7 linked regions of the Homo sapiens genome follow. The protein of the gene in region 7 purifies or fractionates together with the protein of the main gene of each other region. This does not show direct contact. Each region holds a gene or a part of one and is shown on either strand. Other genes may lie near its edges. The genes, in order: P3H2, STK40, P3H1, P4HA1, SCAND3, FAM91A1 and ZNF397.

Region 1 (4,333 bases), on a different chromosome or scaffold from region 7:
AGGGTGGTCTCGATCTCCTGACCTCGTGATCTGCCTGCCTCAGCCTCCCAAAGTGCTGGGATTACAGGCGTGAGCCACTGTGCCTGGCCACTTTTTTCTTTCTTATATCTGCCATTTACAGAAGCCTTAGGCTGACACTAAGGAACTCAAACCCAAAAGAAGTTAAGACTTTACTTTGAGTGCTTTCAGGACAGTTGCACCTTCAAACTTTTCATTGGGTGTATGGGGTGAAGTTTTTCCTCTGTATCCATCACCAACAAGCATGATTCCCTGGAAGCAAATACAAGAAGATACGTCATCAATGATAACTATGAATTCATCAGGTCTTTTTCTGCTTTGGCTGCCAGAAAGCTGAGAACTCTAGTCAATGCTAAGAACCATCCCCATTTTATTCCAGGATGCTGGTATAACTATTCTTTTAATTAAAAGAGATATCTTTATTTAATCTTCATTCTACATTTTTATTATCAAATACTGTCACTTTTTATGGAAATAAAAAGAATGTAAATTATTGATATATTGCCTAATAATTAATTAAAATAAAAGGATTTCTCCAGCAACTTTATATGATAGGCAGGGACCTTGCTAGATGGCTGTTGGGCTAGGAAATATGCCAGTAGCTATTCCAGATCCCACCCGGGAAAACTAAAATAATCCCAACCCAAAGGCTATAAAAGTTCCTCAAAAATAATTTATGTCTTTCTCCTCAAGAAAGCAATATTTCAGGGCTTGTTGTCTGGCTCCAGATGAGACCAGGACCAAAGCAGTTCCAGCTTCTTGGCAGGCCAGCGCAGTGAGCTCCCCTCCTTCTCCGGATCCTCACACTGGCCACGCTGTGGAGCTCCCGGCACTGTTCTTCCGACAGGACGTTATCCAGGAGAACCCGCTGAGTCCCGTTCAGCTGCTCCGAGTTGTAGACGAATGTGATGTTCTCATAGAGTAGAGGACCACCTACAGGAACAGAGCACATTGTCTTCCCTGTTACCTCTGTCCCCCGAAAGGAAGCACAGAATACCAAACAGCTTTCAATGTGCAATTCGAGTGAGTCCATTTCTTCATGAATATTTAGAAATGCAAAGACAAATTGCAAATTAGGAAGCTTGATAAACACAATATAGATTCAGGAGAAAGATGTCTATCGGGTTTCCTCATAATGTCATAATAATGTTACATGCGTACATTATTTTGGGAGAGATAGAACTACTTTTGCATTTGTTTCTAATGCTGATCCCAAAAAGTCGACTGGGCATCTCATAGGACTCTCTTCTGAGAAAGTCCACCCTTGTTCACAGCCCCTCATTCATACCTCTGTCGCAACACCACAGATTGCATGTTTGGGTCCCCAGGTATGACATGCACACCTCAGTTTCACTGGTGTCTAGAGTAACACCTTCACTAGGTGATTCAGGTAGTCACACCCAAGTCACTTGACTCTGCCTCAGTCTTCTTCCTACCACACAACTGACCCTAGGTTGTCTTGCTTTTGGAGTGTTTTTCTCTGTTCTCCAGGCAAAATCATCACGTTTCTATTTCCACACAGGAGGGTTTCCCTTAGGCACCTACTCTCTTCCCAGAGAGAGACCACAAGTTTATAAAATTAACTCCAGATAGGCTCTTCAGAGGGTGATGCTTTGGGGTCACATTTTAGGTTGTGAAATTACAAAATCCAGACCTGACAAAGACTTTTTTTCATAGAGTAGGACTGAAGGACAAAGCCTCTGATAGAGAGGAAATCTTCTGGTGTAGCATAGTGCAAACATTTTGAACCAGAAAATGGAACAGAAAAGAAAACACTGCTTCTAACCATTTATAACACTCCCAAGGGGCCTGGTGCGTGCTTGTCCATAGCAACAGCCGAAGATAAGACAGCAGGGATAGGGAAGGCACAACTCCCTGCCACCCCAGGTCTAGCAAAGGTCACCAACACGTTGGCCTAAAACACTCCAACAGAGGAAGAAGAGACAATTGAAATTGATGTCTACTTTATAAAATAGATTAGTCAGCCTAGGGAAGAGCACTGTCTAAATGTTTATTAGTCTAGCTAGGATAAAAGACTCACTACAGCTCATGATTAATGGAATATTAAAAGCATGAGGCAGTGTTTCTCAATCTAGAGTAATGTTCGGTTATCTGTTAAAGCAGAAGTTCCCTAAGGAGCTCCAGTGCTGACAAATTATTTTCACTCTAATTTTACTTCTATATATGCAATCATAAAACTATGTTCACATTATTTATTTTAGTAGTTTCATACAGTACCCAAACCAATTTACAAGACTAAATAAAAGCAAGACCATAAAATGAACTAAATTCCAATCAACAAATGGAATGGTTAACGTTATTTTTCTGAAAATAAAAAGCTACCTTCCACATGAATATTCTACTCACTGATCTGGTCTGGGTTCTTTTGAGCCAGGATTCCTTATAGTACTGTTGGTGTGTAATTACTATTCTACCACAACTTTTCTCTAGTTAAACTACTACACAATCTTAATGTACCACGATTAATTTTGGCCTTTGTATCAGTCCATTTTCTTGCTGCTAATAAACACATACCTGAGACTGGGAAATTATAAAGAAAAAGAGATTTAACGGACTCACAGTTCCACGTCTGGGGAGGCCTCACAATCATGGTGGAAGGCAAAGAAGGAGAAAGTCATGTCTTACATGGTGGCAGGCAAGAGAGCTTGTGCAGGGAAACTCCCGTTTATAAAACCATCAGATCTTGTGAGACTTATTCACTACCAGGAGAACAAACCACCCCCATGATTCAACTATCTCCACCTGGCCCTGCCCTTGACATATGGGGATTATTACAATTCAAGGTGAGATGTGGGTGGGGACACAGCTAAACCATATCAGCTTTCATCTAAGCCTAATACATTATTTATAAGTGCATCGTATTTCATTTATTTCTAGTCTTTAATCATTGAAGTATTATTAGTTGGCGTTAATATGACCATAACTGTGCCCATTGAACTGTGGAATCCCATGACACCACCTGGCTAGAAGTTGATCCCTTAGATAACCCCTAATTGCTTCTCTTAATTTTTGAAAATTGTGATTAAAATTTATAAATATGGAATTTTTGGATCCCAAGAATATATCCATAAGCCTCGTTTCAGTATCACATCTTTTAGTTGAATAGAAAAATATGCTTTTCTACAATTCACTATTTCTCAAATTGTGTTGCATTGAAAGTTCTGGGAAAGTACTGGGTTAAATAAAAGATAAGAGGACGTCTCAGAACTTTTAATATGTGAACAGGCCTTATTAATGTCCTAAGTAGTAACATAATATGCAGCAGTTTTTAGCCTTAATTGAATACAATTCTCTCCCTCCCCGACTCCCCCAACTTCCTTCCTGCAGCAGAGACTTTACGATGGGCTGCAATGATCATTGCCTCCCAACATTCATACAGCTGTGCAATTTGCTTCCCACAAGTGCGAGTGGAACCTGGAACTTACTTCTAAACAGTAGAATATGGCAAAGGTGATAAGGTGTCATTTCTGTGACTATGTTACATGAAATTGCAACTTCTCTCTTGCCTTCTCAGTCTCTTGCCTTCTCCGCTGCCATGCTGTAATGAAGCAAGCGGCTGTACTGGAGAGGATCACATGGCAAGGAATAGAGGGCGTCCTCCAGCCAACAACCAACTAGGAACTAAAAGGCCATAGTCCAACAACTTTTTGGGAACTGAATTCTCAGCCCTGGTCAACAACTTGACTGAAACCGGTGAGAGATCCTGAAGCCAAAGACACAGTTATGTTCTCTGCAGACTCTTACCCCACAGAAACTATGAGATAATAAATGGATATTTTCATAAGCTGCTATATTTTCATTATGTTTTCACAGCAATAAAAAAAGTAGTCTTTAAAAAATTTATTTGACAGGGTCTCACTGTCACTCAGGCTGGAGTGCAGTGGCACCACCATCATGGCTCACTGCAGCCTTGACCTCCTATCCTCAAGCAATCCTCCCACCTCAGACTCCCAAGTAGCTGGGACTATAGGCACGCACCACCATGCCTAGTTTATTTTTTTTTTTGTCAGGGTCTTGTTATTTTTTTATTTTCAGGGTCTTGCCCAGGCTGGTCTTCAACTCCTGGACTCAAGCCATCCTCCCTCCTCAGCCTCCCAAAGTGCTTGGATTCGAGGCATGAGCCACCACGCCCAGCCAAGTAGTCTTTTAAAAATCCCCCCTAAACGTCTTAGCATAGAACGCAATTTGGAAAAGGCTGTTCTAATCTATGTAGCTGATTAAAGTTTGTAGTCAAATTGAGACAGGCATTCCCTCGAATATTTGGAAAAGTGAACTGTATATTCCATTCCAATTT
Region 2 (4,333 bases), on a different chromosome or scaffold from region 7:
GACCCTTGCTAGGGTCTACCGGGAGAGTCACCACATCTATTATGAGGCAAGGGCACTGGGATATGTTCCCACCATCCCCTAAACACAAGAGTAGGCTAGGGGAGCGTGCAGGCAGCCCCCGCTCACGGCCAGGCCTGCAGCCCAACCCATGGGCCCCTTCGCACTGGGAGTCCACGTGAGCTCAGTACCACGGGGAAGGATAGAGAAGGGAACAGGTTAACGCGCGTGTACAGCACCTCAGAGAAGCCACTGAGACGGGAGAGAAAGAGCCAGGTCTAGAAAGGCCTCCCATCACCGGCAGCAGAGAGGGACTGGTGGGCTGAAAGGGGACAGGGACTGGCAGGAGGGGCTTCCCTGCCTGGGGGTGAGGAGGGAGCTCACGTGTGGGCTGTGGATTCCTTGCTGTCCAGCCAGGCTGGGGGCAGGGAGTGGCCATGGACTGAGCCACCTAGAGATGGGAGAGAAGTTGGTATGGTAAAAAAATAAATATATTTGAGTTCGGTTTAAGATGAGGTGAAGGTTTTCCAAAGCTTGGACTGAGGGGCCTGGATCAGAAAGAGAGGGACGGAAAGAGGCTGTGGCAGGGGCCTGGGAGAGCAGGGAGGAGGGGAAGCTCGCTCTGGGGCCTGCAGCGAGCTGCACTTTCAGCTTATTTGGACTGTGGGGAGCAGCGCCCCAGGTCAGTTGGTGGCCGCTGGGGAAGGCCCTGGAGTGGGGTGAGCAGGCTCCCTCCTCCCTCTTGCTCAGTCCAGAGACAGCATGGTTAAAGAGACAGAGGTAGATTAAAACATCGTGATTAAAAGCAGATTAGTTATCTAGGCTTCTCAGATTTAAAAACCAAACAATCGAGCAATCATCCCAAAAGGTAGCTTCGTGGTACCTCTGCTGACCCCACGTGTGACCTGGGCTGTCCCTGTCCCTGCCCTGTCCCTATTGTGGCCCGGGAGAGTCCAGCACTACAGGGCCCAGCCCTGACAGCCACGCCTTTGGCTGGGGCTGGAAGAAGTGGCAGCAGTGCTGGTGGCCCCGGCTGAGGCTGTTATTTCCGCAGGTAGCGCTGCGCCAGGATGGCCGTGTCCAAGGAGGTCATGGGCTGTGCGTCGTGGCCCAGCCGTCGCACCGGTGGTGCGCTGCCGAACTGCCGCTTGGGTACCCAGCTCCGGGCGTCATGGATGGAGCTCTTCTCCTCGGCCAGCAGCAGCTGCTGACGCATGTAGTTCTCAAACTCGTACTGGGAGCACTCCTCCGTCACCTTCGCCTTTGAGGCGGGGAGGGTGGGAAGGAGACAAAGATAAACCCAGATGAAGGCAGCGCAGCAGACAGGAGGGCAGGCAAGAGTGCTGGCAGCCTGGCTCCTGCAGTCACCCTTCCAGGCACCACACCCTCAGGCCTCAAGGCCGGGGGTGGGAGTGGCGCTGAGGGTGGGTCCCTGACCCCCTCCAGCCAACCTCAACTCCCCTTGCAGGCCGCCCTGCGGACCCGGGACTGACGCAGACTCATGCTTCCTAACTCACTGGCTGCGTGAGAGGTCACTTTACCTCAGAAGCCTTAGCTGTCTGGCCCCTCGCAAAGGTTCTCTGAGCCCTGAGGCGGCTAATGCACGTCAAGAGGTACGAGCAAGCCCTGGGCTGGGGGCGCAGCACCTGGAGGAGCCACATACGCAGGGCCCCATGCTGAGCTCCCTGGGATGGTCTAGGCAGATGGTAACAGAAGCTGAAGTGGTGTCCCCGTGCCAGTCACCACAGGAGACAGCAGGGCTTCCGGATGAGACTTGGGTTCAAGGCTTAGCTCCACTACTTCTAAGCTGTGTGGCTTTGGGAAAGTCCTCTCTAACCCTGTTTCCTCTTCTGTAACATGGGGCTAAGAACACAGGCCACGCAGGCCCGCAGTGAGGGCTGAATGAGGTGCCCTCGGGGTAGGCACTCACTGCGGGCTAGTGATGATGATTTTAGCCAAACAGCTAAAGGGTGGAAGCTGGAGGTGGGTAGGGATTGGAACTCTCTTTCCTCGGGGGCCAGGAGGCTCTGGGAGGCTCTCCCAGGCACGGCCCCTCCTGGTCCTACCTGCACACTGCTCACTGTGGAGCTCCAAGGTGGGCCAGGGAGGGAAGGTCCTTCCAATATCCAGGGCCCAGCAATGCTGTTGCTCGGCCAAGCCCTGCCCTCCAGGGGGCACCCTAAGATCACCTGCCCTCTGCTGCCTGGTGCCCAAGTCTCTGCCCCCACCCTAGGCCCAACACTTTCTCCAGTGCAGGGAATGGGGAGGAAAGAAATAGGGAGAAATGAATCATCTGAAAAATGAAAAGCAGGAAGGGTGAGAGAGAACTCTGAGTCAGGGGGCAGAGAAATGTGACTTGGGCAGCAGGAGGAAGCTGAGAGGGCTGGCCTGGGCCACTTGGGCACTGGCTCCAGCTCGGCTGTCTCACAGGTCTCTCTGGCCAAAGATCTCCAGCTACACCAAGCCCAAGGCAGGCCCCAGGCAGCTCAGGCTGAGGACTGAAGTCTCCCTTTCCCACCCCAAGGCTGGGGAAGAAGACCAAGGAAACTCTGTGGCCTGCGGGTAGCTGCCACCTCTGCCCTTGCCCTGCCTGCCCCCAGAAGCCTGTCCCTTGGGGCTGGGTAATGGCCCATCTGCCCTCCCCAACTCACCTCCTGGGAGCTATCCGCATTGCTCATTTGGTCATCAATGTCAGGAACCACTTGCAAAGGCCCACTCAGAGATGACAGGGACTGCCTGCAGGGAGGCAGACAGGTCAGGCTGGCCCCAGAGAGACCAGGTCCATTGATCCCAGACTTAACTGGAGTCAGACACACCTGGGTTGTGTTCCTGCCATGAGAGACTGCTTCTCTGAGCCTCAGTTTTCTTATCCCATAAAGGGGGACAATTTCTCCCTTACAGGTGGTGGTGAGAACTCAGTGAGGCAATGCCCATGCCCCGCTGGCAGGGCCTGGGTAACTATGGCAGCCCATAGTTGCTCAACCTTCAGTTCTGCCTATGCCCTCCCAATCTTGTCCATGCAGAGAATCTGGAAATCTGACTCTAACTGGCAGAGAAGCAGGCTGACTACTGGCTGCTTTTCTGGGTAGGATGGGCAGAGGCCCTGAGGACGCAGCCTTGTGCCCGGTCAAGTGCCTGTCCACTTACCATGATGCAATGATGGCACTGAGGGCCTCCAGGACGTCGGCGGCGGCCAGGCGCTGCTGGGGGTCAAGGACCAGCAGCTTCCGGATGAGACACACGGTGTTCTCAGAAACCCGTCCATCCCTGAGGCAGGGAGTTGGGGAGGAGGGCTCAGTGGGTGGTGCTGGGTCTGTGGCCAGGATGCCCAGGCTCACTGTGCCGTTTCCCTGCCTTAAGCCCATCAGGCTGGCTGCCCCCCCCACCCCCCGGGAGGCAGGACTCACTCAGGAATGGTATACTCGGCAGCCTTGATCTTGCGGAAGAGCTCCTGCGGGATGCTGTCGTAGAAGGGGAACTGGCCATACAGCATGGTGAAGAGCACCACGCCCAGGGCCCACATGTCACTGGGCTTGCCACGGTACGGCCGGCCTACGGGCACACACATACCACACTGTCTTCAGGCCACAGCACCACCGTGGCTCACCAGCCTGGAATCCCACCTGGGACCCTCCACCTGCCACCCTCACTTCCAGTCCCCCCAGAGTCGTCCTCTGAGCTCCTGCCCGTGCTCCCCGCTCCCCTGTTCCTCAGGATGCACCTCTCCTGCCCCAAGGAGAGGGCTCACTCAGCACCTGCTCACAGCACCTGCCCCGCCCGGCCAGATGGCGAGCCCCTGGGAGCCAGGCATGGGTCTGCAGCCCCAGCACCCAGCACAGCAGCTCACAAGCAGGGGGTCAAGAACACTGGCACAGCAGATAACTAGCTGGCTCCAGATGAGCTGGCCGCTCCTCCTGTCACCGTCCCCACACCCCACCTGCCTCCTTCACAGCCCGGATGACTACTTGCAGGTCCCCTCCTTTGTCTACTTGTGACTCCCCGTCTCCCCTCTAGAAGGGAAGTTCTCAGGTGCAGGTGCCTCCCTGCGGTGTTCACTGCTGAGCCCCAGTGCCCAGCACGGACCCAAGTATTTGCTAAATGAAGGATGGCCACTTAATTCACCTCTCTGTGAGAGTTTCCTCATCTGTAAAGCGAAAAGGAGCAGGCATCTAACGGAGCACCCGCTTTAGGACAGCATGGGAAGAAACACTTTTATTTCACTAACTGTGCTCCACAGCTTGAGGACACTGAGGCCCAGTGATCTGCTCTGTCCAGGGCCACATGGCTGCTCAGTGGGCCCACATCTGACTGTCAGGCTCTGCTGCTTGCCTCCTTT
Region 3 (4,333 bases), on a different chromosome or scaffold from region 7:
GTGTCTGGAGCTGTGCCTGCACTGGGTCCAAGCAGGGAACAGATTCCGGTCACCACTGACTGGCCACAAGCCACTGCACAAGTTACTTCATCTCTCAGATGCTAACAGTCCTCATCCCTAAAGTGGGAAGAAGAGTGCCAACCTTGCAGGGTGGCTGTGATGATTAAATGAGATGATGGATACAGCCCACCCCGCACAGAGCTTCGCCTGGACAGCGGCTCAACAAATGTTAGTTGCCTTCTTTCCAAAAGGGGACTTCTAGTTAAAAATGCTAGATTGGCCACGTGGGTTTATTTCCCCTCACTCCCCTCAGACTCCCCTTAATGGCCATAAGGAAGGCAGGGAAAAGGTATTAACCAAACAAGACAAAAGAGACCGGAAGTGCCATCTTAAAGCCAGATGGTCACCATCTAGTGGCTAAAGAGGACAACTACAATGACAACCCACACAGGAGGGGCAGCAAGAGGCTGTTTCTACTGGAGGCTCTCAGACTCCAGAGCTCGGAAGAAGAGCCTGGGTGTCTCCTTTCAGCGCAGCAGTCTTTGTGTTATACAGATATTTCTCCTGGTTTTGGAGAGAGACAGGGAAAATGCTGAAAGATGGGAGAGAACAAACAATGGCAGGAAGAAGAAGAGATGGGAAAGAAAATGGAGACAGAAAACAGGTGAGCAGAAAAAAAACAACCAGTATTAAGTGAAAAATGATAGCTCTTGGCCAAATAATATCGAGTGTCCAAGTTAGGGGTGCCAAGAGGGGAAAGAATATGCTCACCGCGCAGTTCTGCGGGACTCAGAGAATAGACTTCTGGGCCCAGATAACGCTAATTGAGGCTCCTGTGTACTCCCCACACTCCCTCCCTGTGCTCCCTTCTCCTCTGAATAACAAGCCGAGTGACTGAACTCACATCTGGCCCCAACACTGACATCTGGCCCCTGCCCTGCACGCACAGCGCCTACTCCCCTCTGCTACCCCACTCTTCCGCCCTCAGGTCTGAGTTCAGCTGGCAGCTGTCATAACAGAAGGAAGTCTCTCACCTCACGGGGGCCGATGGATCTGGTGTGTTCTTCTCCAAGCATAGCTGCATAATAGGCCAAATTTTGGTTCATCACCTCGTCATTGGGGAAGAAGAGAAGATAGGTCTTGGCACATTCAACAGCCTGTGTATAATTCCCAACTGCAAAGTGGAAAGAAGAATGGCTGAGAGGAAAGAGTCAAAAGGAAAGGATAAAATCCTAGCACCAGGGACCACTTAGTGTTCAGTCTCCACAAAGCTTGAGGCAATGGCAGCATGACAAGCTGGTGCCTGCTACTTAACATGATGGCCTGATTTCAGGGGCAGGAGTTAAGTAATACACATAGAATGTGTGATTAATTTTAAGGTGAGGTGGTCAATGTCCTCAGGGCTGCCTAACAATGAAACAGAAAAGAATCAGAATTCTCTGCATGCCCACATCTTTTAAGATTCACAAATAATTCCAATACTCCTTAATATTTTGCCTCAATACACTCAATCATTAGATCAATTTCCCTGTCTTCCTACCTTCTTTTTTCTATAGATTTTCAGAAGACAAGGAAGATTACAATAGCAGATTGTCTCTTTGGCAAAATAGTTCTTGTTGATATTTGTTAGTCATCTCAACTCAACTGTAAATATTGTACACTCATCAATATGTTTGTAATGCTTAGCACACAGTAGGGACTCTGCAAAGAGTTGGTTTTCTGGGTATTAATTGGCAGCCCCACAAAAGCATCAGTGCTATACCAGGGAGAGGGCTAGCAAATGTCCTCTGAGCTAGTTTAAACTGTGGCATACCCTTATTTTGCTATTAACTTTAATTCAAAAGCAAAAATAGATTACAAGTTATAGAAGGGACAAGAGATGAGGTCCTAAGTCTCCCTCCCCCAGCTTTTTGGGTTGCTGGTATTGGCTTCCTAGGCCAGTTGTTTATAACAAACTACCCAGGGATCACTTGGCATGGTGCCTCCCATAGCTACTGAAATAAGCCAAACACCTTGAGGAAGTAAGTGGCTGTAATCCCTGCCCACCTTGCCTTTAGCTTCTTAGTTAGCCAGCAGAGAAAGAGGAAGGAAAGTAGGCCTTACTGTTATAGTAGGCAAACTGCAGATAATTATAATGCGATGGGAGGAAGTCTTCAAAGGGCTTCTCTCGACTTGGGTGGGAAGCAAGCTCCGTGACACAGTTCTGCTTACAGTTGAGGACCTGGATGTAATGATCTGAAAGGAATCAAACAGAAGGAATAACTATGAGGTCACTCTTTAGAACTCAAATTCTGGTTAAGATGAACAAATTCAAATGGAAGCAATTTTTCATCAGCTTCTCAGATTTAATAAATTGAGGAATGAGGGTGAAGAGTCCCCATTTATATTATCAGATGGTGACCTTAGAGTCCCAGGAGGCCTGGCTGAAGGTCTGGCTCTGAACTGCACGCACCTGTGATGGCCTGGAAGAGGTCAGCGTTGTACTCAAGGTAGTTGTAGCCATCGTAGTCATAGGGCCCTTCGCAGAGGGCACGGCACTCCTCATAGGCCACAAAGTATTCTTGCAGCGCCGCCTCTAGGTGGGGCACAGCTTCCTGTGGCTGTTCCTCTGAGTAGAGTCGCACTCCCAGTCGAAATTCTTGCTACTGGGAAGAAGGAGCACTCAAATGCAGGCCACAGAGGAGGAACCCTCTCTCCTTGCCCTCAGCCACCTTCACAGGGGTCCTAATTTCCTGTTCCTCAGGTTATGGATGGAAAGGGGTGACCTGGGTACCACTATAAAATGAAGGCCTTTTGTAAATGGTCTTTACAAAATATTTAGCTCTGGAAATTTAAAAACATTTAGCTCTTTTTTTCTTTTTTTGAGACAGAGTCTCACTCTGTTGCCCAGGCTGGACTGCAGTGGCACAATCTCAGCTCACTGCAACCTCCACCTCCTGGGTTCAAGTGATTCTCTTGCCTCAGCCTCCCTAGTAGCTGGGATTACATTGTGCCCAGCTAATTTTTGTATTTTAGTAAAGACGGGGTTTCACCATGTTGGCCAGGCTGGTCTCCAACTCCTAACCTCAAGCAATCCTCCCAACTCGGCCTCCTAAAGTGCTGGGATTACAGGTGTGAGCCACTGTGCCTGGCCAAAAAACATTTAACTCTTAATCTAGATGAAAGATATCTAGGAGTTCATTATGATTTTCTTGTACTTTTCTTCCCCCCCCATTAGTGACAGATTCTTGCACTTTTTTTTTTTTTTTTTTTTGAGTCGGAGTTTCACTCTTGTTGCCCAGGCTAGAGTGCAATAGTGCGATCTTGGCTCACTGCAACATCCGCCTCCAGGGTTCAAGCAATTCTCCTGCCTCAGCCTCCAGAGTAGCTGGGATTACAGGTATGCGCCACCACGCCTGGCTAATTTTGTGTTTTTAGTAGAGATGGGGTTTTGTCATGTTGGTCTGGCTGGTCTTGAACTGCTGACCTCAGGTGATCTGCCCGCCTCGGCCTCCCGAAGTGCTGGGATTACAGGCATGAGCCACCGTGCCTGGCCTAGGTTCTTGCACTTTTTTGTAGGGCTAACAGTTTTCAAATAAACACAACTTACTTTTTGTTTTGTTTTGTTTTGAGACAGAGTTTTTTTTTGAGACAGACAGCCCAGGCTGGAGGGCAGTGGCATGATCTCAGCTCACTGTAACCTCCACCTCCTGGGTTCAAGTGATTCTAGCGCCTCAGCCTCCTGAGAAGCTGGGATTACAGACATACACCACCACACCTGGTTAATTTTTGTATTTTTAGTAGAGACAGGATTTCACCATGTTGGCCAGGCTGGTCTTGAACTTCTGGCCTCAAGTGATCCACTCACCTCGGCCTCCCAAAATTCTGGGATTACAGGCATGAGCCACCACGCCCGGCCAACACAACTTACTTTTTTTTGTGTGTGTGATGGAGTCTCGCTCTGTCACCCAGGCTGGAGTGCAGTGGCACAATCTCGGCTCACTGCAACCTCCGCCTCCTGGGTTCAAGCGATTCTTCTGCCTCAGGCTCCTGAGTAGCTGGGAATACAGGCACACACCACCACGCTCAGCTAATTTTTGTATTTTTAGTAGAGACAGGGATTCACCATGTTAGGCAGGACGGTCTCAATCTCCTGACCTTGTGATCCGCCCGCCTTGGCCTTCCAAAGTGCTGGGATGACAGGTGTGACCCACTGCACCTGGCCACAACTTACTTTTAAAAGTCATTCTTTTTTTTTTTTTTTTTTTGACTGTTGCTCTGTCACCCAGGCTGGAGTGCAGTGGCACAATCTTGGCTCACTGCAACCTCCACCTTCCAGGTTCAAGCTATTCTC
Region 4 (4,333 bases), on a different chromosome or scaffold from region 7:
CTGCCACTGCTCTCCAGCCTGGATGACAGAGTGAGACTGTCTCAAAAAAAAAAAAACAAAACAGTTGATTATAAGTTAATGAGAAGAGAGGGAAGTCTCATACCTAACTTTTATTCACAAGTAATGATACTGATATTAAAATTTTAAACCAATTTTTTATTTCTTAAGGAGTGTTTAGCATTCATTCTTCTTGGGGTTATATAGTTATCAGTAATTGGTTTGTTTGATTTTTGCATACTTTATATAAATCCTCTAAGATTAGGTTTATATATTGTAAATTTTGGTTGATCAACGTCATGTTTGATAATTAAACTGATTTAAATATATTTTAGTAAACTAGCTTTGCTGTTGATCTTAAATATATAGTTAATATCTCTTCCTTCTCCTTGAAGAATTCCACCAAACTTTATATATTTACATATTTATATAATGTGTAATACATGGAAGAAAAAAACAACTTTAAGAGCACATATTTTACTTACCATCTGTTATCTGGAAGTATAATTGATTGTCAATGAATGTCATTTCAGACCCATAAATGTGTTCATTTCTCAAACTTAGTGGATGCACTTTGTTTTCTTGCTGTGTTATATAACTAAAAACTCATAACTATTATGTTAGGTGATCTTTACCTGCTAATACAGATACAATTTATATAACAGCGTCACAGTCCTTAAGCAACACTAGGCTTTTGGAAGATTGAACAAGTTAGAAGTATGCCAAGTCTTATTCAGTGTATTTAATTTTTTCTTGTTGAGTATGTAGAACTTTTCATGGTGTGGTAGAAAATAATAAAATAGATTTTGAACAATCCTTATTAAGTCTCTTTATGGGAAGTTTATGAGGTTCTACAGTTTTTTTTTCTTTGATTTATCTATTTCAAGGCTTTATCTCTAACCTAACCATTCAGAGACAGTACTTTCCTAATGATGAAGATCAGGTTGGGGCAGCCAAAGCTCTGTTACGTCTCCAGGATACCTACAATTTGGATACAGATACCATCTCAAAGGGTAATCTTCCAGGTAAGATCATTCTTCCATTCTATAAAATACCTATCACCTAGCTTCTCTGTTGAGTCCATTAACACAATGTTAGTATAAAAAAGACTTGCATTTTAAGATTTTAAATTGTAGTTTGTTTCATAGCCTTCGAAGACTAAAGAATCACCTTCCCTTTCTCTTAGGGCTTAATAGTTACGGGTATGCTTCTAGCTTCTAGCTTGTTACTCTGAAAGCTTGTATTGATAGAGACTAACTTAAGTAGGGAATTTTAGTGTGTAAGGAAAAGAAACTATCATTTCACCAAATGTTTTTATTCAGAACACCTAATACTATTTGAAAGCTTTGTATGTAAAGCTATAAGGGATTGATAGTCAAAGTTTATATGTTAAATAATTAAAAGCCAAGATGTTTTGGGTATCCACATATGTTTAAAGTGTTCCATAGTATGGAACATCCTACTTTCTGACCTATTTTTGGCAAAGTCCTCTTTTTAAGTTACAGTTGCTTTCATGATAATTTACTTTTGCCGTCCCTCACTTTTTCAAAGTTTGTGACTCATTACCACTACTATCTCCTGTTATTGTCAGCTGCAGAAATAAAATATGTTGTCTGTGTCTTCACATTGAAATTGATTTTCTCCGTAAGAAAAAATCACTGGGATGAGTTGTTAATCAAAATGTTTTCTTGCTCATCTCCCTTTATTTGAGGTGAAGGTATCCGTTGGTAAAAACTAAACATGGTATAATAGTAAATAAAATTTCTGTTAAGCTGGAATATAATTCCATTAATTTGAACTTCCAAAAATGTACAAATTTGCAAATTTTCAGTTTCTACTAATATTATACATTATAACGCTTTTGATAAGATTATAACCTTATTTTTAAAATTGGTTTCAGGTTTTCATAGATATTAAATACTTAATATGTGCCAGCTATTATGTTAGGTACTGGGGACACATAATGAACAAGACATACACTACCCTCGCCATTAGGGTATTTAACATTCTTACAGTATAGTAAGATGAGTGCTTGGATGGGAGAAATTCAGGATACCATATGAGCACATCAAAAGAAACCTATTGCTGGACCTCATAAGGGATGTAAAGGAAGAATTCCTGGAAGATACACATTAAAAAAATTGAGATCTAATGGACCAGGAATTAGCCAGAAAAATGGGGGAGAGGGAGACAGGAGTGGGTGTGGGAAAAGTGTTTCAGACAGAGGGAACATGTAGAAAGGTCAAAAGGAGAGAGCATATCATATTCAGATAACTAACATGTAGTTTGTATGGCTTAATGTAGAGTTCAAGAGGTGAACGCACCAGGTGGATATGGGGGTTTGGCTTTGTGAGAGTAGTGAGAGCTGAGACTAGAGAGGTAAGCAGAAGCCATCTCTTGGAGAGCTTTGTAAGCCATGTGGAAGAGATTGAACTGTCCTGAGTGCAGTGCGGAGCTATTAAAAAGTTTGTAAGGGAAATTTATGATTTTTCCTTTTAGAAAACCATTCTGGCTGCCGAATGGAGATTGGGTTGGGGCCAAGGGACGAAGAACCAGGGAGGAGGCTGTTGCAAATATTTAAGTAAGAGGTGGTAGTGGATAGATTATCAAGCTACTTATTAGAGTAGAATAGTAGAATTTGATGATGTACTTGATAGGAATTTCTGGCTTCATCAACTGGATAGATTCCATTTAACAAAATAGGGCTGGCATGGTGGCTCATGCCTGTAATCCCAGCACTTTGGGAGGCTAAGGTGGAAAGGATCCCTTGAGGGTAGGAGTTCAAGACCAGCCTGGGCAGCATAGCAATTCCCTGACTCTACAAAAAAATGAAAACTTAGCTGGGTGTTGTGGTGCTTGCTTGTAGTCCTAGCTATTTGGGAGGCTGAGGTGGGATGTATTCACACTGCTATGAAGAAATACCCAAGACTGGGTAAGTTATTTTAAAAAAGAGGTTTAATTGACTCACAGTTCCGCATGGCTACGGATGTCTTAGGAAACTCACAATCATGGCAGAAGGCACTTCTTCACAGGGTGGCAGGAAAGAGAATGAGGGCCAGCAGGGGAAATGCCAGGTGCTTATAAAACCATCCTATCTCATGAGAACTCACTGTCACAAGAACAGCATGGGGGAACTGCCCCCATGATGCAGTTATCTCCACCTTGTCCCGCCCTTGATAGGTGGGGATTATTAAAATTCAAGGTGATATTTGGGTGTGAACACAGAGCCAAACCATATCACGGGAGGATCACTTGAGCCCAGGAGTTCAAGGCTGCAGTGAGCTGTGATCACGCCACTACACTCCAACCTGGGCAACAGAGTGAGACCCCTATCTCAAAAAACAAAAAGCAAAAAAGAAAACATCCCACCTCAGCCTCCCAAATGTGTGGTGGTGGGTAATAAATGTTATTTAGATTACTATATGTGTTTTGTTTAAAAAATGATTATATTCCCATCAAAATGGTCCTGAATATTATTTAACCCTGATTTCACTGTGTTTAGTCTTAGGGGCAATATTCATTCTTTCTCAGGTGCTTTTTATCTCCTTGTTGACTTTTTTCCTCTTTTATCACAGTTTTGGGCTAGTTCTTATTGACTTTTCTTTCAGGCAAATTCCTTATAAGTAGAATAACTGAAATTTCCTAATCACATTATACCCTATAAGTGGTAAAAATAATAGCATGAATACTAGCATAAGAGTTTTTAGGCTCCCCCAACCCAGATTATTTTCTGTTGTTAATAGTCAAATATCACAAATGTGTTCGAAGGCTTCTTGTGCACCTTCCCTTGTTTAGAGGTAATGACTATTCTGAACTTGGTGCGTATCCTGTCATCTTTTTATACTTTATCATATATATTTTCCATTGTATTGTGTTTTTAAATTTTATGTCAATAGTACATCATACTCTATGTATCTTTCTACAACCTTTTTTTAACCTAATATTTTCAGTAAATTTATCTGTGTTGATCAGATTCATCTAACTGCTAATGTGGTATTGTATAACATTATTTATTCATTCTTCTGTGGATGGATGTACATTTAGATTTTGTCCAATTTTTTGCTTTATCAAATGAAGTTTGATACATCTTTGTTGATTTCTTTTTGTGGCCATGTACTCACGTGCAAGGCTTTCTCTTAGGGTATAAGAAATCATAGGGTATTTGGTTTTTCATCATACTTACCAGATGTGGCCAGATTGCTTTCCAGAGCATGTATTTATACTGTCACCAGCATTGTATGAGAGTTCCCATTTCTTCATATCCTTGCCAGCTCTTGGTTTTGTCAGACTTTAAAAATTTTAGCAATCTGGGTGTGAAATGGTGGGGGTGAGGGAG
Region 5 (4,333 bases), on a different chromosome or scaffold from region 7:
AGCGTTAAAAAAAATCAAACCCAGGAATTGAATACTGAAAGACTAATGACTGTCATGACCAGTTTGAAGTAACTTCAGTTTTGTAATTTATTACCACTACCCAAGGTACTCTTCAAACTTCTGTGGTAGAGGCAGAAGTGGAGTTCCTCCCGGTTCTAAGACCAGGCCCACCCATTTTGGTCTAGTCCAGCTGGTGGAAAAGTAGAGGAATCAAGAGACTAGATTTGTGTTTGTGCTTGGGGGGGTGGGGGGGTGGGGGAGAGTCAGTGAATAATTCAGCACAATGAACCATATCCATATTTTGTTTCTTAGTTGCTCCAAAAGCTGGGATTGTGTATACTAACATTACAGAATTGATACATTGTTTAATTATAAACAGCAGGTGGCCCTCTTTCACAGATTCTGTTTCTGGCAGTTATGCAAAGATTTAGACAAATTGAAATGCATGCTATTATATTATACAAAGCAATTTACATAAGATACCTTATTAAGCTCAGAGAAGGGAAAAACATACCAAAGGGAACTGGCTTAACCATTTTATGAATTTTGAGAAAATGATTTTTTGAAATGTGCTTTGCACAGTTTAAGAATTTTTTTTTTTTTTTTGAGACGGAGTCTCGCTCTGTCGTGCAGTGGCATGATCTCAACTCACTGCAACCTCTGCCTCCTGAGTTCAAATGATCCTCCTGCCTCAGCCTCCTGAGTAGCTGGGACTACAGGCGTGCACCACCTCGTCTGGCTAATTTTTGTGTTTTTAGTAGAGATGGGGTTTCATCATGTTGGCTAAGTTGGTCCCGAACTCGTTACCTCAGGTGATGCATCCACCTTGGCCTCCTTTTATTAGTCCCAAAATGCTGGGATTACAGGCATGAGCCACCATGCCCGGCAAGAATAAATTTATTATGTGGTATCCAAGTTGGAGGAAAGGAGCATGACACAGAATCTTAAATCCCAACATGATATTCTAATAATATGTAGGCTTTCATCTCCTCCTATGTCACTGGATATTCCCTTTTAGAATATTCTGGTTTATGTGCAATTTTGGGATTCACTATCCATGGACATTTTCCAACTCGATGTAGCGTAAGTGTAACCATTAATAACTCTGTAATCCTTTAACAATTTGTACATTTTCTTAGGCCTGGTGAATCTGCATTATTAATAGTAGAGACAGGGTTTCTCCATGTTGGCCAGGCTGCTCTCGAACTCCTGACCTCAGGTGATCCACCTGCCTCGACCTCCCAAAGTGCTGGGATTACAGGCATGAGCCACTGCACCCAGCCCAATATTTACTTTTAATTAACCACACTGGAACTCATTTACAATTTTTTTCAGTCATCACGGTTTAGGAGATATTTCTTTAACGTGCTTTCATTGTTATTCCCAGAAACAGAAACCAAAGGGATGCGTTTTAACTCCTGTCCTATAGAGACATCAGTTTCTGTTGTATGGCTCTGGCTTTATTAGTCCCAGCATTTTTCATTTCTCTTCATGTTTTATCTTGTACTTAAGAATTCAGTAAAGACTGATTTTCTTCTTACATTCTATTTTAGTGGAAGAATACAAGTTTAGCTATGACAAACTACAATTATTTGTATTGTTTACCAAATGCACCTACTTGTCCACAGGTCTCACAGGGCACATATGGGCAGGAAGTTTCTATGGAAGAAATGATCCCTCTGGATTCTGCAAAGGAGTCTTTAGGCACCCAGCTTCAGTCTATGGAAGATAGAATGGAATGTGAATCTCCAGAGCCACACCCACTTCAAGATAATGGTGAGAATAATTTAGTTCTAAGAAAGAAGGTGAGACTTGGGAGAATGAAGGGTCTAGTATTGAAAGTTATCAAACCTCATTCCATTTCAGCTTCTACTGAATGTATTAATAGTTGAAGGAAAAGCCAATCAGTATAGTGTAATGTTATTAAGGGAGTTGAATTAAAACAGTCAGATAATAATGTCAAAAATACTTGAACACAAGATTTTTCATGGATACTTTGTAATGAAGTTAGTAAGTACCTGTGGATAAATCAGATACCTCTGTATGTAAATACTGAGCACTTGTCAGTGTAGTCATGGGTCCCATTGCTGTAGCCTCTGACCACAATTTTTGTCACATAATGACTGTGTATACATTGGAAATACTATTTGGAAATTCTACCTTAGAATATGGAATTTCTGAAGTCTATGTTTATTAGTGTTCTAAGGTCTGTTATTGGTATAATGTATAGTAGAGGTGGAGTCTGGCCTGGTTCTGGAACAGCTATCTTTTCCATTTAAAAAGGATTAGGTAAAATGGATACAATGTTTTTCTCCTCTTATAGCCCTAACAATTTTCTTAGACATTAATATTGATTCTACAAACTTCTGGGGCTCATATTTTCCTGGTTCTCTTGACATTGCCCTGTATTTCTTCTTCTAATTCATTCTTATTTATTTTCCTTCTCTGCTTCTAGTTCTATAGCATGGCACAAAATGGATCAGTATGGAAAGAAATGCTATCCATAGGATGGTCTTTTTCAGTCACATTTTGAGATAGCACTTACCATTATTGTTATTTTATTATAAAGTTAACAATTTTCTATTGAACACTAGATGTAGTAACGTGTTAGATAATGTGAAAGATACTAGAGAAATAAGTGATCTCTGTTTCTTTAGAAACTTACAGTCTTGTTGCATCTACCTATAAAACAGTTAAAGAAAAAACTGCGATAGTGCTAACTTGTGTTATAAATAGATAATGATTTTCAGGAAAGGAAAACTCACTGTGAGTTTAAATTTAATGATCAAAGAAGCCTTACTGGAACAATTGAGAGTTAAATGAGGCCAAACCACACAGTAACATATCATTAATTTTAACCTAGTTTTAGAAAATATAAACATTTTAGATGATTTAAATTTAGTAGTTCATTACTGCTACAGAACCAAACGGGTTCACTTGCCTGGCACAGGAAAGCCAAACATCCACATCAACAGGAGAAAAGAGGGCATTTATTTGCAGAGTGTCAAGCAAGGAGAATTGGTCCCCTCAAAATTAAGACCCAGTTTCCCCAATGGTTTGCAAGTAAAGTTTTTTTAAAAGAAGGGAGTCAGAGGTTACAAGCAAAGTCATAAATCAATACGTGGACACTGTACATTATTTTGACCTAAAAAGGTAGGATGGACATCTCAGAGAAGGGGCTTACAGGTCATAGGTAGATTCAAAGATTTTTTGATTTGCAATTGGTTAAGGAGGCAAAGCTTTGTCTGAAAATTTGGGATCAGCAGAAAAAAAGGTTAGCTCTGGCTTGCGGGTGTGACTTCTTCCAGGCCCCACAGGAAGAACTTTAGAACAAAGCAGCGGTTGGAGTTCAGTCCTCAGTTCCCCATTATCTGAGGTCTTCAGACCAGTGGATCCATTTGGTGGAGGTATGGGTTTCTGAAAAACAACTTAGGGATATATGTTAAGATGCTATCTTTAGTTAATATAGGGAACATCTCATGACTAACTTTTTTGGATGTTGTTTTAAGGTATTACCTTCTTGTTTATCAAGTTGCTCATTTACTTCTTAAAGATAGTTAGATGCCTGGAATTTCCCTTGAAGGAACTCAAGATTTTCTGTTATTACCATGCTTGGGGTTAGGGGTGGCTGACAGGCCCCTAAGAGGGGTCCCTGCTCTGTCTCACTATTTGGTATGCAAATTGATAGTATAAATGATGTTGACTTGAGTGAAAGTATTTTTCCAAGCAACTATAAAACTATCTAGAGATGTTATGCTAATTCCAAATTATTATTTTTTACTTTTTCCAAAATAGTTTTTTTCCTTAACACTTAGCCAAATTTGAAGTATTCTTAGTGTTTCTGTTATTATGAGTATTCTAGAAATTTCTTTTAATAAGCTTTATTAAGTCAGAAATTTTTCACTGATTTTGACTCATCCAGTACTCTTATTAAAATTAGTAATGAAGCTATTTGTATTGAGTTTGTAGTTAATAGCCCTAAAAGGGAGCTGATATGAATATATTAGGTTGGAACTTACTCCTCAAATGTTGATGTAATAGCTAACCTGACTGAATAAAAGAGAAAATGTGTAGTGTGGAGATTTTTTTAAAAATCTATTATTGTCTTGCTGAGGTTCCTCCAAAAAAAAAAGTCTGAGACCGGGTGTGGTGGCTCACGCCTGTAATCCCAGCATTTTAGGAGGCCAAGGCAGGTGGATCATGAGGTCAGGAGATCGAGACCATCCTGGCTAACACAGTGAAACCCCGTCTCTACTAAAAATACAAAAAAAAAAAAAAAGTCTTTGCATAGTAAACAAACAAGTAAATGTTAATTTGCATCCTATTTTACATA
Region 6 (3,347 bases), on a different chromosome or scaffold from region 7:
TATAAGATTGTGCCAAATTGTTTTCTACAGAGCTTGAATCAACTTATAACTCACCAGTAATAACAATTTATAGCTCTCTCAGCTCCGAGAGTCTCACACATGTGTATATCTGCGGTTCTTAGAGCTATCTTACGGTATATGCTTTGAATCAGTGACCAGCATATGGCGGCTGCCTCTCCAGGTATTCTCCATAGCCGGAATACACAGGCCCAGCAATAGAAATGCGAGTACCCTACAGTGGAAAAACCTAGCAAACACCATCTTACCCAATAAAGAAACATCACCAGTGATACATACTGACATCATGTACCCTAAGATATGTTGTACTGGGGGGAAGGGCACATCACCTTTGTAGTACCCTTTCTGATAAAACGTAGCCTCAGTCTAATCACGAGGAAACATCAGACAAACCCACACTGAAGGATGTCTTACAAAATAACTGACCGGTACTCTTTCTAGTGTCAAGGTCATGAAAGACCGAGAAAATGTTATATTGGAGGAGACTAATGAGACACTGATAACTAAATACATGCGATGTGGTATCCTGGACTGGATCTTGACAACAAAAAGACATTAGTGGGAAAACTGGTAAAAGCCTAATCAAGTGTGCAGTTTAGAAAATACTAGTACCAGGGTTAACTTCTGAGTTTTCATAGACCTGCCATAGTTTACAGAAGGTGTCCACGCTAGGGGAAGCTCAGTGAAGGGTACAGGGAACATCTGACTATCTTTGCCAGTTTCTGTAAATCTGAAATTACTACAAAATAATTAAGTTTTTTGTGGGTTTTTTTTTTTTTTAAGTACAGGAAAGCCACAGCACCAAACCATGGTTGTATTTAAAATTAAGACAGGAACTTTCAGAAAATTAAACACATTTTCATAGTAACTTGATCAATACCACAGTTTATTTGTAAACATGTTATATGTGTCAATAATCAAATTGACAACACTTTATAGATTTCATTGTATAATATTAACATCCTAACAGAAAACGATCCACTGTACTCAGTTACAGTTTGGTATTTTAAAATCCTTAAATACAAATTGTATTTGAAACACTGAACACAAAAAAGAAACATGAATGGCAGAGAAAACTGAAAACAACAAGTAAAAGAAACCAATATTCCGCTCCCCTGAAAAAAAAACATAAAATCATCTGATTACATAATTTAAAAAAGAAACAAAGGAAATCAGATGACATTTTTTGATATAAAGTTGCATTTCTTCAAATCCATTTTAGAGGTGAAATTGTATCAATATTAAATTCTATGTCTTTTTTGATATTTGTTCTTTCTTTCCTCTTGGTTTCTAAAGAATGTTTGCCAGGGTTTAAATTACATTAAGGAAGCGGGAAAAAGAAAGGAAGGAACATGGTAAAAAGCCAAATGAAATTAACTATTTGCAAAATAATTGGACGTAAATTTTTCATGAATCTTCTTTGGCAAATAACAAAGTCTGCATTTTAAATTTACCTTTTTGTTGAAATGGATCAATGCTTGTAAGATTTAAGAGATTACATGAGTTAATGTATAAGTAAAACAAAGCCAAATTCACAAAGCAAGGCGCAAACATCAGCTTTTCACATTTTGCTAAAAGCTCTAAAAATGCACTCTCCCTCCTTAAGAGGACCAGAGGTCTTCAGCTCGGAATCAGATGATTACCCTTGCCTCATTCAACACAAGAAACCAGAGGGGACCCCATGGTTCTTCGGTACTTTCCCTAAAATTCATGATCACTATTAGGTTCTATTTCTTCCTCCTTTCTCTCTCAAAGGAAATATAGCAGCAAATCATTCCCATATTTTAAGCTTTAAATTCACCAACAACTGGGTTCACTGCCAACAACTACAAATGTTCAATTCTGTATTAGTGTACATGTCATTACAGTTGGTTTAGATGGTTAATATAGGAATAAATAAAATAACTACAGTTCAAACAAAGGAAATTAAAATGAGATTAAAGAGCCCCGATCAAAAAAAAAAAATACTTACAACTTTCAGCTGAAAAACTGTAAAAGTTACATACATACATACCTAATGGCACTAGGAATGTACAATATCAATTATTGGAAAAATAAGTGAGTGACTCAGAGTCGTAAGAAATTATTTAATATTAGTATTTTTTCTTTTATAGACAAACATAACATACACATGGTTTCTACCTTCTATAAGACAAAGTAGAAAACTAACCGTTACTGCATTTACCTCAAACACAGCACTGACTGTGCCACAGATAACATGGTCCAAAATATTCAATTCTATAGATAGGCCATGGTATTGAATGCATGGTTAAGTTTTAGGAAAGGCATATATTTCCTGAAGTATGTATGTTAAATACACAAATATCTATAAATAACAAAAAGTTACCAGCAAAAACGTTTAGGTTATAACATTCCCAAACTTCCTAACATTTTAAGTGTTTTAGATATATGTTGTCTGACCAGTTCGTTTGGTTACAGTTTTAAACTAGCAAACCATTACCCTGTAAGAGGAGCTAAACTAAACTATAACACTGCACAAACTTCCCAAGGAAGGTAACTTGAAAAGTCTAAAAAGTGATTCCAATTATTCTAATTAACATTTGAGATGCTAAAAGAATCAATGACTCAAGAAACACTTTGAAGTAATTCCATTTTTCTTTATCATTTTCTAAAAAAGTATTCACATAAATTTAAGATCCAGATTGCTTAAGAGTATGTCTTCAAAGTAGGTTTATCACTAAAGCATTCTGATCCAAAGACATAGTCTTAATGCTTCTAATATGTAATTCTAACCTAAAATCACAATCCTTGGTTTGAAAACATCAAAGCTAAGAAACAAAAAAATAAATCAGGGTGAAAGTGTGCAGCAGCTATAGCTACAAGAGTGGAAAATAAATTCTATTTTTTCCATAAAGACTCTATGAAAATATAAAGCCCAAAGTCAGTGACAACAGAAGTCCACATATAAATGGTGTTTAAAAATAGAAAGTCTTCTAAAGCTTCTCATGAGATGTCAATGAATAGTCATAATCTTAAGACCTTATAAATCAAGGTTAAGTTATACACAACTATGCTGATTTACATACCTTCTACAATGTCCAACTGACATACATAATTTACAGACACCCATAGGAATTCATAATGCCCTATCATATCATCTCTCAATACTGGATGTTTATTGTTTTATAGTTTTACTACTTTAAGTACCAAGAAGCCTTTTCAGAGGAAGAGTTCCATCTCTTCCCTTGATCCCCCAAAGTATAGGTAACAAAATATAAAATTAAACAAGATTTATGTTTGATAAACTAACATATAAAATTACCATTGCAATTTTCATAGTGACTGCTTATAAACATAACAGTCATCAT
Region 7 (3,971 bases):
TTAGACCTGTGGACCTGCCATGACCACCTCCTCCCTCAGCAGGTCTTCAATGAGCTTGGAGAGATGAGGGTCAGATTTGCTTTAAATTTCCAATCCTTTCAGCTGGATGTATTAGTTGCAGGCTATGGAAATGAGGGAAGGGGAAAGGCAGGAAATCAAAGTTAAGTACACTAAATTGCACATTATCTTTTAAAATCTGTTTAAGACTCATTTAAGGTAGACATTATTATTCCCTGGACTGCTTCTATACCAAGAGAAACAGGACAGCCCTGAGCAGAAGGGAAAGGCATGAATTACTTTTCTTCCAAGCAAGAGTGGTGAAGACGAAAAAATTTCCTTTGACATCCACCCTATATTGGTGCCCCTTCCATTTCATAAAAAGTGGAATGTTGAAGTTTTGACCATAAGAGATCATCTACATCAGCTCCTTTAAGTGAGGGTCTAGAGTTGGAAGATGACTTGCTTATGGCTATGGAATACATGGAAAAACTCTAATAATCAAAGATCTCCACTTCAAAGCTATTGCTTTTCTCAACTGTAAATCTTTCAGGCAAGAATTCCTTTTGCACCCAGATTTATACTTTGTAGACTTTTTAATATACTAGGTGTGAGATGGTTATGTTTACCATTGTCATTTTACCAGTGATGAAGGGATCAGAGTTAACAAGTTAGCTAATTTCCTGAAACTTGGAAGAGACAAGAGATGCTATGAAAAGCAAGTGCTTTTAAAATATTTTCTCAAGCATCCTGGGATTCCATTCACTCTTGCCCCCTAATTTTAAGAGTATTAGAGGTTTACTATAGAAAAATTTGGAAAACACAAAAAAGCACAAGAAAAAAATTACATCACCTACAACCTCAGCACCCACACATAACCAGTATAGCACTTTATGTTTTCAGTATTTTTAATACATAAATATATATTTTACATAGGATCATACTGTACATATTGTTTTGTAATATTTTTACTTAACAATATATCATGAATACTTCATTTAATATTAATTGACATCAGTGTTTTTTTTTTTTTTTTTTTTTTTTTTGAGACACAGTCTCACTCTGTCACCCAGGCTGGAATACAGTGGTACAATCTCGGCTCACTGCAACCTCCACCTCCCGGGTTCATGCAATTCTCCTGTCTCAGCCTCCCAAGTAGCTGGGACTACAGGCACATGCCACCACACCAGCTAATTGTTTTGTATTTTTAGTAGAGACGGGGTTTCACCATATTGGTCAGGCTGGTCTCGAACTCCTGATCTCAGGTGATCCACCCGCCTCAGCCTCCCAAAGTGCTGGGATTACAGGCATGAGCCACTGTGCCTGGCCTGTGACATCAGTTTTAAGAGTTTCAGGATTTTGTGTACATTCATGATGGTTACTGAAACATACATTTCCAGGTACAATTTCAAAGTCAAAAGGCAATGCTTAAAGCTTCTGGTATTGATTGCCAGAGATGGTATGTATTTATTCATGTCTTACCAGCAGCATTAGAGTCCCAATGTCCCTGAATCCCTGTCTGTTTTATAAGGAAAAGTGTCATCTCAACTCTTGCTTTAATATACATTTTAACTGTAGTGAGGTTGAACATTTATTGTTCATTGGCACTTATTTTGTGATTTCCCTACTTAAGTAGCATTTTTTTTCTATTGGAACTTTCTTATGGGGAGAGAGTATACTGAAGTGGCTCCACAGTCAGGTTGTGGGTTCAAAGTCTGACCTCCCCACTTTGTAGATATATGACCTTTAGCCTTCATTTCCTCATCTGCTACATACGTGCTGAGAAATAACAATAATAAGTATATACAAAGCCCTTAGCAAGTATCTATTACATTTACTTTTTTCCTTTTTTTTTGGTTTGGAGACAGGGTCTTGCTCTCCCAGGCTGGAGTGCAGTGGTGTGATCTTGCCTCACTGAAGCCTCGACTTCCAGGGCTCAAGCGAACCTCTCACCTCAGCCTCCCAAATACTTGGGTCTACAGGCATGCACTACCACGTCTGGCAAATTCTGTTTATTTTTTGTAGAGATGGGGTCTCACTATGCTGCCCAGGCTCGGCTTGAACTCCTAGACTCAAGCAATCCTCCAGCCTTGGCCTCCCAAAGTGCTGGCATTATAGGTGTGAGCCACTGTGCTTGGTCTATCTATTACATTGCTTTCTGACATACAGTAGAGCTTTCTTATATAAAGAGTATTTCCGTTTTACAATTCCTACTTTACGTCCTACCTTTTCAGTTTGTTCAGGTCTTTATCTATGGAAAAGGAGAAAAACAAGAGTTGAGTAGCTCTTACCACGTATTTTAATCTCTTACATCTTTTCCAAATAATCCCATCCATTTTTTCCATATTCTCTCCCTAAACATGGGCATTTAGGCCTCCTGCTGTTCTTACTGGTTAGCACATGTCCACTGATGCACGCCCCAATAAGAGCATTACTTCTCTTTGCTTCTTTTTATCCTCATGAAAATTCTTTTTCTATGCACATGATTCTAGATTTCCATACAGATTTGTTTTTGGTGTGGTATGTTATTCTTCTGACCTATTAGGTCTTTTGAATATGTCTTTGTGTTGCTGGTTAACCTGTACAACATTCCTTCTTACACTAAGCATCAGTCTAAATATTCTCTTCCTGCTAGGCCCCTCAGAAAAGGGAAGTCTTGACTGACTGTGACCATTAGTTTCAGTTGTCACTTCCTTTTAGCATTGTCTTTAATAAAATTTGCAAAAGATGGTTGGGCGCCATGGCTCACGCCTGTAATCCCAGCACTTTGGGGGGCCGAGGCGGGCGGATCACCTGAGATCGAGAATTCGAGACCAGCCTGACCAACATGGAGAAACCCTGTCTTTCCTAAAAATACAAAATTAGCCAGCTGTGGTGGTGCATGCCTGTAATCCCAGCTACTCAGAAGGCTGAGGCAGGAGAATCGCTTGAACCCAGGAGGCAGAGTTTGCGGTGAGCCAAGATCGTGCCATTGCACTCCAGCCTGGACAAGAGCGAACTCCATCTCAAAAAAAAAAAAAAAAAAAAAAAAATTGCAAAAGATATTGTGAAATACTGGTGACATAAGACAAAACTGAACATGTGCGAGGTGCCCAAAGAATGTCACAGACCCAGCAACTGACAAATATTTTTTGAGCACCAAAGCCCAAGGGAATGTACTAGGAATTGTGGGCGTATAGCCCCAGAAACAAATGATATGGCAGCTTCTGATCCAGAGCGTTGGGAATTTTAAGAAACCTGACAGCAGCTCTGATATTGTCTTTAGAATCAAAGGAGAATAGAGTCTTAACACTCTAGCAGACTCTTGAGGTATAGGCTGGGCTCTTTCTCACCCTCATTCCCACCACCACCCTCATGGAAGTTCTAGGATAGCCTACAGGTTGGGCAAGGAAACCACATATTTGCCCTTTCCCTGGGGTCACATAAACCAAGACAAAGCTCTTGACTACCCTGTGGCCCAAGGGCTCCAGGTTTTGTCTATTAACAGGAACTTCTCCATTGGCACTGCTTAAGAGTCTGGCCAGACCCAGACTTCTCTGACAGACAAGACCTCACTACAACAGGAACTCAAGGAATGCTCCACACTTTGTTTCTGGCCTTTGGCTACTGTTCTTTACTGGGGTACCACTTCCCTAGAGTACCACCTTGGCTAACTCCTCCTCATCCTTCAGGCCATTTCCCCCATTTCCTTATCCAAGGCTGAGTCAGGTGCTCCTTAAGGTCACATAGGAGCATTCCACTTTCACTGCCTGTCTGGCTGCCTTGCCCATTAGACTGTAGAGACTACAGTCTTGTTTTCCACTGTATTCCTAGTTCCTGGGACAAAGTAGGTACTCAAAAAATAACCTTTGGGTAAATTATATTCTTTCTTCTCATGCCTATCTAATTCCTGGCCTGCCCTGGGCTCAACAAATCATTGATGAAGCCATTTCCCCACCTTTCCTGCTGCTCTGTCACTGTTCTTTATTGGGTCA

Evidence for each region.
Region 1: the proteins of ZNF397 (region 7) and P3H2 purify together in Homo sapiens (co-immunoprecipitation; one large-scale study listed by IntAct). This does not show direct contact.
Region 2: the proteins of ZNF397 (region 7) and STK40 purify together in Homo sapiens (affinity purification with mass spectrometry; 3 studies listed by BioGRID and IntAct, with this or other methods). This does not show direct contact.
Region 3: the proteins of ZNF397 (region 7) and P3H1 purify together in Homo sapiens (affinity purification with mass spectrometry; 3 studies listed by BioGRID and IntAct, with this or other methods). This does not show direct contact.
Region 4: the proteins of ZNF397 (region 7) and P4HA1 purify together in Homo sapiens (affinity purification with mass spectrometry; one large-scale study listed by BioGRID and IntAct). This does not show direct contact.
Region 5: the proteins of ZNF397 (region 7) and SCAND3 purify together in Homo sapiens (affinity purification with mass spectrometry; 2 studies listed by BioGRID and IntAct, with this or other methods). This does not show direct contact.
Region 6: the proteins of ZNF397 (region 7) and FAM91A1 purify together in Homo sapiens (affinity purification with mass spectrometry; 3 studies listed by BioGRID and IntAct, with this or other methods). This does not show direct contact.

What each region holds. Positions count from the first base shown.
Region 1 is NC_000003.12:189,973,735-189,978,067, forward strand, and holds part of P3H2 (prolyl 3-hydroxylase 2 isoform a precursor), read right to left. Parts: intron 952-4,333; coding exon 824-951; intron 271-823; coding exon 175-270; intron 1-174. UniProt on the Homo sapiens protein: Prolyl 3-hydroxylase that catalyzes the post-translational formation of 3-hydroxyproline on collagens. Contributes to proline 3-hydroxylation of collagen COL4A1 and COL1A1 in tendons, the eye sclera and in the eye lens capsule.
Region 2 is NC_000001.11:36,340,716-36,345,048, forward strand, and holds part of STK40 (serine/threonine-protein kinase 40), read right to left. Parts: intron 3,550-4,333; coding exon 3,405-3,549; intron 3,265-3,404; coding exon 3,145-3,264; intron 2,734-3,144; coding exon 2,649-2,733; intron 1,259-2,648; coding exon 1,040-1,258; 3' UTR 1-1,039. UniProt on the Homo sapiens protein: May be a negative regulator of NF-kappa-B and p53-mediated gene transcription.
Region 3 is NC_000001.11:42,756,749-42,761,081, forward strand, and holds part of P3H1 (prolyl 3-hydroxylase 1 isoform 1 precursor), read right to left. Parts: intron 2,643-4,333; coding exon 2,453-2,642; intron 2,236-2,452; coding exon 2,104-2,235; intron 1,175-2,103; coding exon 1,035-1,174; intron 1-1,034. UniProt on the Homo sapiens protein: Basement membrane-associated chondroitin sulfate proteoglycan (CSPG). Has prolyl 3-hydroxylase activity catalyzing the post-translational formation of 3-hydroxyproline in -Xaa-Pro-Gly- sequences in collagens, especially types IV and V.
Region 4 is NC_000010.11:73,065,535-73,069,867, reverse strand, and holds part of P4HA1 (prolyl 4-hydroxylase subunit alpha-1 isoform 2 precursor), read left to right. Parts: intron 1-884; coding exon 885-1,022; intron 1,023-4,333. UniProt on the Homo sapiens protein: Catalyzes the post-translational formation of 4-hydroxyproline in -Xaa-Pro-Gly- sequences in collagens and other proteins.
Region 5 is NC_000006.12:28,576,715-28,581,047, reverse strand, and holds part of SCAND3 (SCAN domain-containing protein 3), read left to right. Parts: intron 1-1,628; coding exon 1,629-1,776; exon of another isoform or gene 1,777-1,805; intron 1,806-4,333.
Region 6 is NC_000008.11:123,812,980-123,816,326, reverse strand, and holds the end of FAM91A1 (protein FAM91A1), read right to left. Parts: 3' UTR 875-3,347; downstream 1-874. UniProt on the Homo sapiens protein: As component of the WDR11 complex acts together with TBC1D23 to facilitate the golgin-mediated capture of vesicles generated using AP-1.
Region 7 is NC_000018.10:35,246,725-35,250,695, reverse strand, and holds the end of ZNF397 (zinc finger protein 397), read right to left. Parts: 3' UTR 888-3,971; downstream 1-887. UniProt on the Homo sapiens protein: Isoform 3 acts as a DNA-dependent transcriptional repressor.